Linked DNA regions of Homo sapiens: region 1 is linked to region 2. The links come from fine-mapping of genetic effects on gene expression. Tissue or cell type: cerebellar hemisphere. Region 2 holds a variant in brackets; the other region holds the start of a gene. All regions are shown on one strand. Distances are from middle to middle.

Evidence for each region. PIP is the estimated chance that this variant, and not a neighbour inherited with it, causes the effect.
Region 1: it holds the start of STAC, and the variant in region 2 is fine-mapped to the expression of STAC in cerebellar hemisphere (GTEx, PIP 0.98).

What each region holds. Positions count from the first base shown.
Region 1 is chr3:36,377,573-36,383,385 of GRCh38, forward strand. It overlaps STAC (SH3 and cysteine rich domain), which reads left to right and starts at 2,932. Exons shown (of 11, transcript NM_003149.3): 1 at 2,932-3,182. The coding sequence starts at 3,072. The region is part of intron 2 of LOC124906227 (a long non-coding RNA gene); the gene reads right to left.
Region 2 is chr3:36,190,544-36,196,356 of GRCh38, forward strand. No RefSeq gene overlaps it. Among named protein-coding and RNA genes, the nearest start is that of STAC, 190 kb to the right of the region's middle. The variant A/G (reference allele first, on the strand shown) is at 2,504.

The sequences.
Region 1 (5,813 bases), 190 kb after region 2:
GTTCGAGTTTGTGCAGATAAATTTCTGTACACCTCACACTTCTGCTGGCTTGATATTTACCCAGAAACCAGAGTGAAATAGACCATGAAGGGGATCTACAAAAATCACAAAGCTACAGACTTGAGACTTAGAATAATTATTCACAACCTTTTTTCCTCAGGCTTTACCAGACTGCAGTAGAAATGAGAAATCTTGACAACCATAGCTAAAATGTCATAAAGCTTCTAAGGCAGAATTTCCAGTCTTCTGTGAGGTCTCACCTAAGCATTCCTGGGTGTCAGATGGGGTATCTCACACATAGCCATGAAAATGTACACTTCTGCTCAGGGATATCAATGCTTCATGAGGGGTACTCTGGGGATCACTTTGCTGGTCTACCATCTACTGACTCAAAGCACTGACAAATCCCATTGTTTTACAGAAGCATTCAGAGTCTTCTTCCATTCAGTTTGTGGAGGACACATGCAATAATTAATGCCTAGACCATTTCTAGAGCTCAGGGGCTACAAGGGTAGCCTCTTTTCACCACCTTGTTAACAAGCATTATACCAGGAGCTAGAGAAACAAGATGAACATGGCATTGCCCCTGCCCTAGGGGAGATCATAGCCCAACAGAAGAGCAGGCAACCTTGTCATTGATTACTTAGGAAAGGAAGTCATGGGAACATGGCATTGATTTGGGAATCTAAATCAGATAAATGGGTCAAGGAAGGAGATGTCAAGAGTAGTAAATACTTGGATATGTGATTTGAAGAATAAGATAAGTTAGCTAGATAACAAAAGATCGGATAGAAAATAATGTGAAACTAACACATAAACAAAGGCGTGATTTAGTTTGGGACACCATGGCTAATTCCTATGGTAGGTATTATTTATCAGACTAAGGATTTCTGCTGCTGGATCAGGGTGGGGTGGAAAGGAAGGAGGTACTAGCTTCTCTAAATTTCCTTCAAGGGACAACATTTAAACATATACTATTGGCTAATACTGTTGCTAACTTGAGCTAAGCACTTACTAAAAGTAAGGATGACATCTTCAATTCTTAAAAAAAGAAAATCCAAAAGAAAAAAAGGATGAAAAATTTATTGTTCTAAGCCATGACATGCTTGCTCACCAAGACTGGAATTGCCAGTAGACCCTGGGAGTTTTGTTTCCTAAGAAAACCCTCGTCTGGCCCCATGCTAGCTCAGGCTTCATTTGTACACACTCATCAAAGTCTTGTACTTTCCCTTATCATAGTTTTTTTTTAAATGTGTGTGTGATTTAATTAATTGCTGTCTCTCCCACTAGACTTAAATTCCAGGAAAACAGACTTAATCTGTGTTTTCTCTCTGCTGTATCATTAGTTTCTGGCACAATTCTGATACAGAATAGATGCTTGATAAAAATGTGTTGATATGGCTGCTCCTGTCATTGTGTTTGTGACTTTGGCTACTAGAATTCTGTCTCTATCGAACACTCAGGCATTGTGTTGTGAGAAGGAAAAAGCTGAAGCCATTTGGGCTAGCCAATCTGGCCCCGTACTGAGGGTCACCAGAAAATTTAGAGCATTTTGAAAGCTAAATGCTGAGTAAGAGGCTGACACATTGAACAGTAGCTTTCAATTGACATCTGGGATGGAAAGAGTAAGAGCAAGTTTATTCTAAAAGACATGAGCTAGGGCATGGATGCAGGACCAAACACATAATTTGCAGGGTCAAGTACAAAATGAAAATGTGATCTCTTGTTAAATATTTTTACCGAATTTCAAGATGGCAGCATCAGCGCGGGGCCCTGTGTGACTGCACAGGTTGCACATCCATGAAGCTGTTCTTGCAAACATCTACAGCTAATTTTAAAAATCTGAACAGAAGTTTGCAATTTTGTTTTAAAAAATTGAGGGTATTTTGTATTAATGGGGGAAAAGAGGCTTTTAAATATCTAGGTGTGTTTCTTTTCCCTGCACACTGAGGTTGTCTTCAAAAGAAACTGGACCCTCTGTATCTTTATTCAGTGGGGCTATTCCTATGTTTCCAAAAGATTTAGTAAGGCAGGCTGGTTTGCCCCTCTGTGAACAGTCCTCAACTCTTGCTATACTGCAACATCCAATTGCTCTTCAGCCAAGACCTGGCCTAGATTTGAGGCTCCACAGTCGGAAATGCATGGATTTTGAAGCCCAAATGTGTTCGAATTCCAGTTTCACCAATTATAGTTTAGTGACTTAAAGCAAATTACTCAGTCTTCCTACAGCCTCAACTTCCTCATCTATAAAATGGAAGTGATAATCCCTAGACGCATAGAGTAGCTGGGAGGATTAAATAAGGTAAAAAGAAAGGGTTTAGTACAATAAGTGCACAACAAACGAGGAACAGGTGTCCATATACACACTGCATTATCTCTCTGCTTTAGATCAAAGCTGAATGGAGAAAACGCAGTGCCCGTGAGTCAGGGGACCCCCACTCCGACCCCTGCTCTCTGTCACTGAACCCTATAAATAGCTTAGCTAAGTCACTGTCTCAGTCACTATTCGTTGGGGTGAGGAATGAGGGAGTTGTTGCAAGTGGCTCTTTCTGGCTATATCATTCACAGATTTTCTATTCTTTGGGGTTTGGGTCTGAATTTTCAGCATCCTCTCTGAAGAATCACCCCCACCCAGTGCCGGCGTGCGCCCAGCCTTCCCCCAGCCCTTTCCAGGGCGCTGCCCCCTGCCTGCCCTCACTACTCCAGGCGCTGGCCGCGCAGCCCCGCCCTGGAGCTGCCTCCCCGCCTCCTTCCTCCTCCTGCGGGCGAGCAGAAGCCCGCTCGCCCGCTGCCGAGTGGCAGTCACGACTGTGAGGTCGCCGGCGAGGTGGCCGCGGGCGCGGCGGGGCGGGGCAGGGCGCACTCTCCTCCACGCCCGCGGAAGTGCCGGGGAGGTGGGCAGGGCGGGGAGGGAGAGGGAGCGAGGCTGGAGGAGGGCACGTCGGCGCCTCGGCGAGGATGGGAGTCCCCAGGACCCGGAGCTGAGCAGCCTGGCGCGCGGCGGGCAGGGCGCGCAGGACAGAAGCCTCGCTGTTCCTCCGGGAGCCCAACACCGTTCCCGCGCGGCCACGATGATCCCTCCGAGCAGCCCCCGCGAGGACGGCGTGGACGGGCTGCCCAAGGAGGCGGTGGGCGCCGAGCAACCGCCCTCTCCTGCATCCACCAGCAGCCAGGAATCCAAGGTACCGAGCACGCTTGCCCCCAAGAGAACACAAACTCACTCTCCTCTCCTGTCGGTCCAGCTTTGTCTCTCCTCCTATCTAGCACGGGCGTGGGGGTCTGAGACTTGCTAGTTAGCCCAGGGCTGTAGGACTTGAACGTCCGGTAGGACCCGCTGCTCACGATGCTGGACCACGTCCCTGTGGACCCAGCCTTCCCGCCCACACATTCACACACGCAATTCATGGTGGCTCCGGGTTCAGAGATCGATTTCTTGCGGGGTGGTAGCTTGGTTTTTTTTGTGCTTTGAACCTGCTTGTGTCCAAAGCACGTGTAGGTAGGTATTAGGTGGCTTCTGAAGGCTGAGGGATGGAGACAGCCGAGGGATACTCTTCCAGAAAAGCTTGAGTACTGGGCCAGAAAAGCATGTATGTATCCCAAGGGTCTCAGAGACCTTTTGCTTAACAGGGATCACCCCTACCTTCAGATACTACTCACTAAAAAAGAAAAAGAAAAAGAAAGGGTTTGCCTGCGTTTGTCTGAAAGTTGATGTTCCTCTTGTGAAAGTTAATACTCTAAGAACCTATACTTGCTTTTATGAAAGTTACACTAACACGTATACAAAAAACCAAGCCCGCAGCAGTTCTCCTGTCACTGTTACACTTCCTCTGAAACTCCCGTGGGTGCCAGGCACATGTTTGAAAATCTTGGAAGAGGATAGAGTAAAATGTGGCTGCTAGCAGTGCAATGCCAAATGGCAACTCAGCTGGTGGTGGAAATCCTAAGATGGAGTTTGTAGTTATGTGGATTCTTTTAAGTGTAGAGCTCCTGGCTCTTTATTCTGATTTCATTGTGCGATCCCCAGGCATTTGGGGAATGTGAGGCAGTCCGTGTATACCAGCAAAGGAAAGGGGTTGCCAGTTTATAGGATAGGGACAGGCCAGATGGGGCAAGGAAGACTGCGATCCTGTCTCTCTTCACATGCATCCCTGGAAGCCATTGATATGATCAGGAGGATGAAAATCACAGCCTGAGTGGCTCTGGGGATTTGGTGTGATACTGGGCACTGTACATTTCCCAGCCCCCTGAAGTTAACCATCAATGATGGTAATCTAAGCCCGAAAGCTTTACATCTTATTTATTTTTATTTTTTTCCTGTTACTTACTGGCTGCCAGACCTGGGGTATGTGTGTCAACTTTTCTAAAACTCGGTTGGAAATGAGGGAAAAAGCCCCAACTTCCAGAGACATTGTGAGGAGTACATGAGAGGCCCTAATGTCCACCTGGTATACTGTAAGGACTCAATCATGTTTATCCTTTTCCTTCCTGAGATAAAGAGATGGAATCTATCTCATCTCAAATGATCCACTCCAAAGCAATCTGATAACCCATACACATGCACTACCTCTCCTCAGTCAAAAAGTTTCTGGGTATCATTGCCTCCCATTGAACATCAGTCCCCAGAGTGATATAGGTTAGTGGCCATTTTAGAGGAAAGCTAGAATTCTATAAATGAATGTAGCTGAACTCAAGAGTAAAACTAGTATTGAACTTTTTGAATTGGCCTGTTGCTCTGCAGTAGGCGTGTTCTGGAAAGGGCTTAGCATTTGGGCAAACAGTGGCATGGTTCAAATGCATTATATGGATTTGCTATTTATAGATGTCCTAATGGAAATTATTTGGCAGAGCAAAAGCCACATATGTAATGCCCATAATTATCCACCAATTTATCTGGCTTATGGTTTTGTACAAATTAGTTTTTCTCAAAGTGGTCTATACACCGGATGTGTGTTTCTACATTCCTAAATTTGATGTCATGGCCTCAGTAAGCTTAATTAGTGGAGATGAACTATGGCAGCCCATGAACCCTAGGAAATTGAATGCAATATTGTATGCCTACATGTGAATTTTTCTTGGCATAGCATTCATGATATTCTCAAAGTGATCCATGCCCCTTAAAAAAGGCTAAACTGCTAGTAGGGAGGAACGTGTGGTAAGGTAAGGGAGTAGGATGGCATGACACTGGAGGAGAGGAAGGCTCAATTCATTCTATTCTAGGAAGGCCACATGTTAAAGCTTACTGGCGTTTACAAGGATCTTTGACCCTGAGCATGAGAGCTTGGTGAGGAAAATGTGAACAAGACAGTAATATGCATTCCATCTTACTCTTCCATGAAGTGGTCTTGTTTGTAAAATATCTTGTGGGACAAACATGGTTCAGGCCCCCTTGGCATTAAACTCTCTCAAGGAAGACTTAAAGTTACTTTTTTTAAAGAGTTAGGTTTTTTTGTCTTATTATAAGAGTAACAAATACTCTTTGTAGATATTTGAACAGTCCAGACATAAATGATGAAAAGAAAAATAAATTAGCTCTTGGTTTACCATCCAGAAGCATCTACTAATAAAACTTTGATCTATATCTCATGTCTTTTTAAATCTGTTTATATATTTACATAGTTGAGCGAGAACAATAGTGAGCATCTACTGAATGTTTACTGTAAGTCAGATACAACCTTAATCTTCACAATAGAAGATTCTGTTAATATTTCTATTTTATGGATGGGGAAGTGGAAGCCAAGAAAGGTTAGATCATTTTCACTGTGAAAATTTATTATGGAAAATTTTAATATACACAAAAGTAGAGAAAACAGTAT
Region 2 (5,813 bases):
TTTTTGTTTTATAGGTCCTGTGAGATTTATGCTTTAAAGAGGTTCTGTTTTAATGTGTTTCCAGGATTTGTTTCAAGATTTAGAGCTCCTTTTTATAGTTCTTGTAGTGGTGGTTCAGTAGTGGCGAATTCTCTTAGTATTTGTTAGTCTGAAAAAGACTATTTTTTCTTCATATATAAAGCTTAGTTTCACTAGATACAAAATTCTTGGCTGATAATTGTTTTGTTTGAGGAGGCTGAAAATAGGGCCCCAATCCCTTCTAGCTTGTAGGGTTTCTGCTGAGAAATCTGCTGTTAATCTGATAGGTTTTCCTTTATAGGTTATCTGGTGCTTTTGTCTCACAGCTCTTAAGATTCTTTCCTTTGTTTTGACCTTAGATAACCTGATGACGATGTGCCTAGGTGATGATCTTTTGCACTGAATTTCTCGGGTGTTCATTGTGCTTCTTGTGTTTGGATGTTTAGGTCTCTAGCAAGGTCAGGGAAGTTTTCCTCAATTATTCCCCCAAATATGTTTTCCAAACTTTTGATTTCTCTTCTTCCTCAGGAACACAGATTATTTTTAGGTTTGATCATTTAACACAATCCCAGACTTCTTGTAGGCTTTGTTGATATTTTCTTATTCTTTTTTGTCTTTGTTGGATTGGGTTCAAAGACTTTGTCTTTGAGCTCTGAATTTCTTTTTTCTATTTGTTCAATTCTATTGCTGAGACTTTCCAGGACATTTTGCATTTCTATAAATGTGTCCATTGATTCCTGAAGTTTTGGTTGTTTTTTTCATTTATGCTATCTATTTCCTTGAATATTTCTCCCTTCATTTCTTGTATTCTTTTTTGGATTTTCTTACATTGGGCTTCGCCTTTCTCTGATGCCTCACTGATTAGCTTAATAACTAACCTCTTGAATTCTTTTTCAGGTAAATCAGGGATTTCTCCTGGGTTTGGGTCCATTGCTGGTGAGCTAGTGTGATTTTTTGGGGGTGTTAACAAACCTTATTTTGTCATATTACCAGAGTTGGTTTTCTGATTCCTTCTCATTTGGGTAGTCTCTGTCAGAGGAAAGGTCTAGGGCTGAAGGCTGTTCACATTCTTTTGTCCCACAGGGTGGTCCCTTGATGTAGTACTGTCCCCCTTTTCCTATAGATGTGGCTTCCTGAGAGCCGAGCTGCAGTGATTGTTGTATCTCTTCTGGATCTAGCCACCCAGCAGCCTACCAGGCCCCAGGCTGGTACTGGGGGTTGTCTGCGCAGAGTCCTGTGATGTGACCCATCTGTGGGCCTCTCAGCTGTGGATACCAACACAGTATTTGGGGTGTCTCCTGGGTCCTGCAGGAACAATCCACTTCCTTCAGGGGGTCTGTGGGTCCTCTCAGGTTTTCTGATTTATTCCTGCAGACAGTCTGGAGCAAAAGTTCATGATGTGAACCTCCACACGCTGCTACGTCTGTCCACTCAGAGCTGTAATATAGTCCTGTCTCCCATCTGTCCTGATCCACTTGTCTATTAATACTGCTATTTTTAATTTGTGAATTTACTAGAGTCAGCTATTAACACAAACAGAATTCTTTAACTTGACATGAAACTATTTTCTGACAACTTTTGCTGAATAGTATAGGAAGATGTAATTCAACATGATTAAATGCTTACTATATTACTATGCTCAAGTGTTGCCATTTTCTTATTTCTGATTCAGCCATATTATTGTGTTATGACAAGTGAGTGAGGAGGTGACTGTAGGAAGGGGTGGTTAGAAAGTTTATAAACAAAGAGTTTATCAAAGGTTTTGTTATTTTTATTCAATCAATCCCTATGTGAACTTAAATATGGAACACATAAGATACTTTATGTAGCTCAAAGTTTCTAACAGAATAAGAAATTCAGAGTAGATATTAAAGGATTATCAATAAACATATAAGTGGAAGACTATCAGAGTTACATGTGAAAAATTAGATACTAGTTGCCTGATAGTGTCACTGCTTTGACAAAAACAACATTTTGGGGGATTTCTGGACAATAGGTAGAACCACCACAAGTCTGTGCCTTTGTCAAAGAACTGATAAAAGTATTGAAGGGGCAATGAAATCAATGATCTAACATGAACAGAAAATGTGACTTTATAAAATCCAGAATGGCAGCCAGTACATTAAGCATAATGAGGACAATGCAGGATTTGGGGCCAGACAGACCTGGACTTGAAGTTAGTCTCTATCATTTGGTAAGTTTGTGAGATTCTCTTGGCTCATTCTTTAAATGAAGATCATGGAATCTATCCTGTTAGGTTTAGGCTGTTAAAGACGAACAATTTTAAAAGCCTATGATCCAATTTGAACTTGAGAAATGGGAATTACTACATTATTATTGTTTTATATAGAGATAAATATGAATGAAAAATGCTTTTCTGGGTTCTGGGTCACTGTTTTTGAGATTCAGGATTATTTTCCCCTGGCTAAAAAGCACAGCTTCTGCAGCAATCTGACTTGGCAGGCATTACAATGTACAGAAGGAG[A/G]AACAAAACCCCACTCAAAAGGCTTTCTTCAGTCTAAAAATAAATGTTCCCTTACCTGGCCATTGCTTTGTCTCTAGCCTATTTGAGAATCCCTGCCTCTTGCTCTGTGTGGCATGCTGCACCTGCTCTGTGCTCCTGTTCAATCATCAGGGACTAAAAACAGGAAAAGGTCTCCTCTTTAATATGATTTCCAGGTGTGCTCAAAAAACTTGGCTGCATCAGGAGCCAAAATTCTTCCCATTGATCAAGCAAGACAACTCTCATTATCTGCTGTCTAAATTGAAATTATGTCATGGCATAAGTTATATGGAATATTGATGGGGAATAAGAGGATGAAGAGGTGATAACTTAAAAAAGCTTTGACAATACCTATTTTGATTATATCACATGAAAATATGAGCCCCAAAGAAACATGTATTGAACATATATTGAGTTTTGACAATGAACAGGCCTTGAGGCTCCACTAAGTGCAAGACCCTGTGCCAAAGATGTTGATATTAGGCACCCATGGAAAGATGACTAATGATGCAAGATAATGGAATACAGGAAGTGCCTTGTGAGTCTACATTCAAGAAAAACAATGGGAGGAAGTTCTGTCTGAGCTGATTATCATAATTTCACATGCTATATTGTGAAAGTTGTACGTTGCACGTGGTTCCCTAGCCAAGGAGACAAGTGGGTTGATAATTCACCCTGTACTTGCTCACCAATCAGGACACTCTAACTCAGGGCTGAGTTTACCTAGAGGAAGAGAAGCTTTCCTCTAAGTCTCACAAGGAGCCACACTGGCAAATTGGGTATCCATTTCATTGGCTCTCTCATTCATTGACCAATATTTATTGTATTTCTGTATCATCACTAACCTAGATCCCTTCCCTATCTTTGATAAACCAACAGGCCCATGATCAGGAAGTTCTGTAGAAGGGACTGGCCTCCCATCTAAGGAGCTTCTTCATTTAATGTGTCCTAATCATTCTCTCTCTCCTTGAGGGACACACACTTATTTATGTAACATCTCCATCAAATAAATAATTGGAAATAGAGAAAACATTGTGTAACAGCAATTCCCTACTATGTAGCTCTTTATTGTGTACATAGAAGGTTCATAAACTGCCTTTTTGATCCTCACAACAATTAGTGGGAAGGCCAGGATGAGTATCTACATCCCATTTGACAGTGACTGAGGCTCTGAAGATAATTCTAGGTCCCAGATATAGGTAGGCTCAAGGATGTCTATTGCACATACATCTTGGCAATTAAAACAATGGTTTTCCTGTTTTATAACACAATTTTGACACATTTATAAATGGCTGATTCAAAAATGTCTCCCAGATCAGAATAACCTCAACAAATCAGTCAAGGTAAAATGGCCTTTGACATCACTCACATCCCCATACATGAAATTTAGCAAGTAAAATCTTTACACAGATTTTTAATCAGATTAGCAGATGAATTAAAAGATGATGTATAAAACAGATTAAAACATTAGAATTAAAATGTTTATTGTCAATACAAAATTTGATCAGTACTGATCTGTTTTCAGATCCGTCTTATCTGGGGAGAGGTAAGACTGATGTGAAAATTCCAAAATGATTCTTCCAAATTAAATAATTCATCTTTGTCAGCTCTTAATCCAGCTGATGTCAGCAGGTAACAGTCTGCACAATGAACTTTTTTTCCCACAGTGCCATGGCACACCCATGGCGGGATTCATTACTGACACTCTCAGCCTGAACACTAATCCCGTGAAGCTTCTGACCAGCTCTCAGTTCTGTTTCTCCAATACCCTGAGAGATTTCACAGTCTAATTAGTCTTGAACATGAATGTGAATAAAGAATAGCCTTTGGTGGCCTGGCCAGCTCTTACCTCTTCTCCTTGCTCTCCACATTGTCTTACTGTCTGATGTTACCAGATTCGTCTTCTCAAAGCATGATACATGGTTTTCATATTAACTCTCAGGTTCAAAACTTCCATGACCTTATTGCCAATTGCCTATAATTAAAGAGAAAAGTCCTTAGCTTGGAATTTAAGCCCTCCACAGTGTGATTCCAACCTCCATTTCTGTCCATTTTTCTCGCTAGTTCCTTCACAAATACACAACTACTCTGTTATTTATGCACATACCCATGCCCCTGCTAATAGAAGTGTACACATCTTAAATACTCTCTTCTTTCTCACAATTGCATGTACAAAGTCTACTAGTGTTGCACCTAAATGATATCTCCACAAAAACTTTCACTGATTCCTTCTAGCTGGGAATAATCACACGTACCTCTGAATTTTAATGTGTTCTAAGTGTTCCCATCTTAAGTATCTTTTGCTTTTTGCTTTGTATTATATACTTCAGAATAAAACCTTTCTGAGGGTAGGGGGTCTGTCATACTTCATTCCTTTGACGTATTACCTGATATTTATAAATTTTTCACAACAAATTGGTAAATACAGTCATAACTACTCCGCATTTTGCCTTACTCCTCATTGTAACAGAATAATTATCACTCTAGGGTCCCGGGCAAGTAGAATCTATCTAGCACTCCCAGTTATTACTGATTCCACTTCTCAGTGGAAAACCATTTAAGTTAACAATTTATCTGAATGCACACACGGAGGGGCCATCAGCGCTTCCAGCTATGGCTGAAAGATCTAGGGAAAGTTTTTTTCCTTGGCAGCTGTAAGGAAGGGACATTGTTGATTGAGCTAGGAAAGCAAGAGCTTCACTAAGAGAATATTCATATGCTCTGCCATAATGAATTTGTGCAGTTCATTGCATTTTTCAGTCATAAAAATAACATTTTATTTTGTAATTTGCATACTAAATTTGGACTCTATTTGTACACTGTTTACAAGGTAAAAAGCAAGCATACTAACTAACAATTGCTGTGTCCTGGGCAAGTATATCAAAGTGGATCTGGATACAAAAAAACAGGTGGAACATGTAACAGGATGGTATGGGGATGCTCCAGTGGAGACCCAGGTTCCGGCTTCTCATCTCAGCAGGACAGATGTGTGACACTCACTGCCAAAGACCAACCCAAGGTAGAAAAGTTCAGAAATCAAAGCTCCTGGGGCAGCAAGGTAGAGTTTAAAAGAAATAACTGTGAGAATAAATGATTTTGGTTATGAGGGGACCTGGCTGTTGATAGTCTCTCACCAATCTAATATGTGACTTGGTCATCATGAGTCATATTATTTGTGGCCATGTGTAACCTTCACTTCCCATGCCAGAGCTATGCAGTGTGTCACCTGTGAAATGTAGAACACACTCAGCCATCCTTGGCAAATGGTATTTTCTATTGAATTGTAATCCAA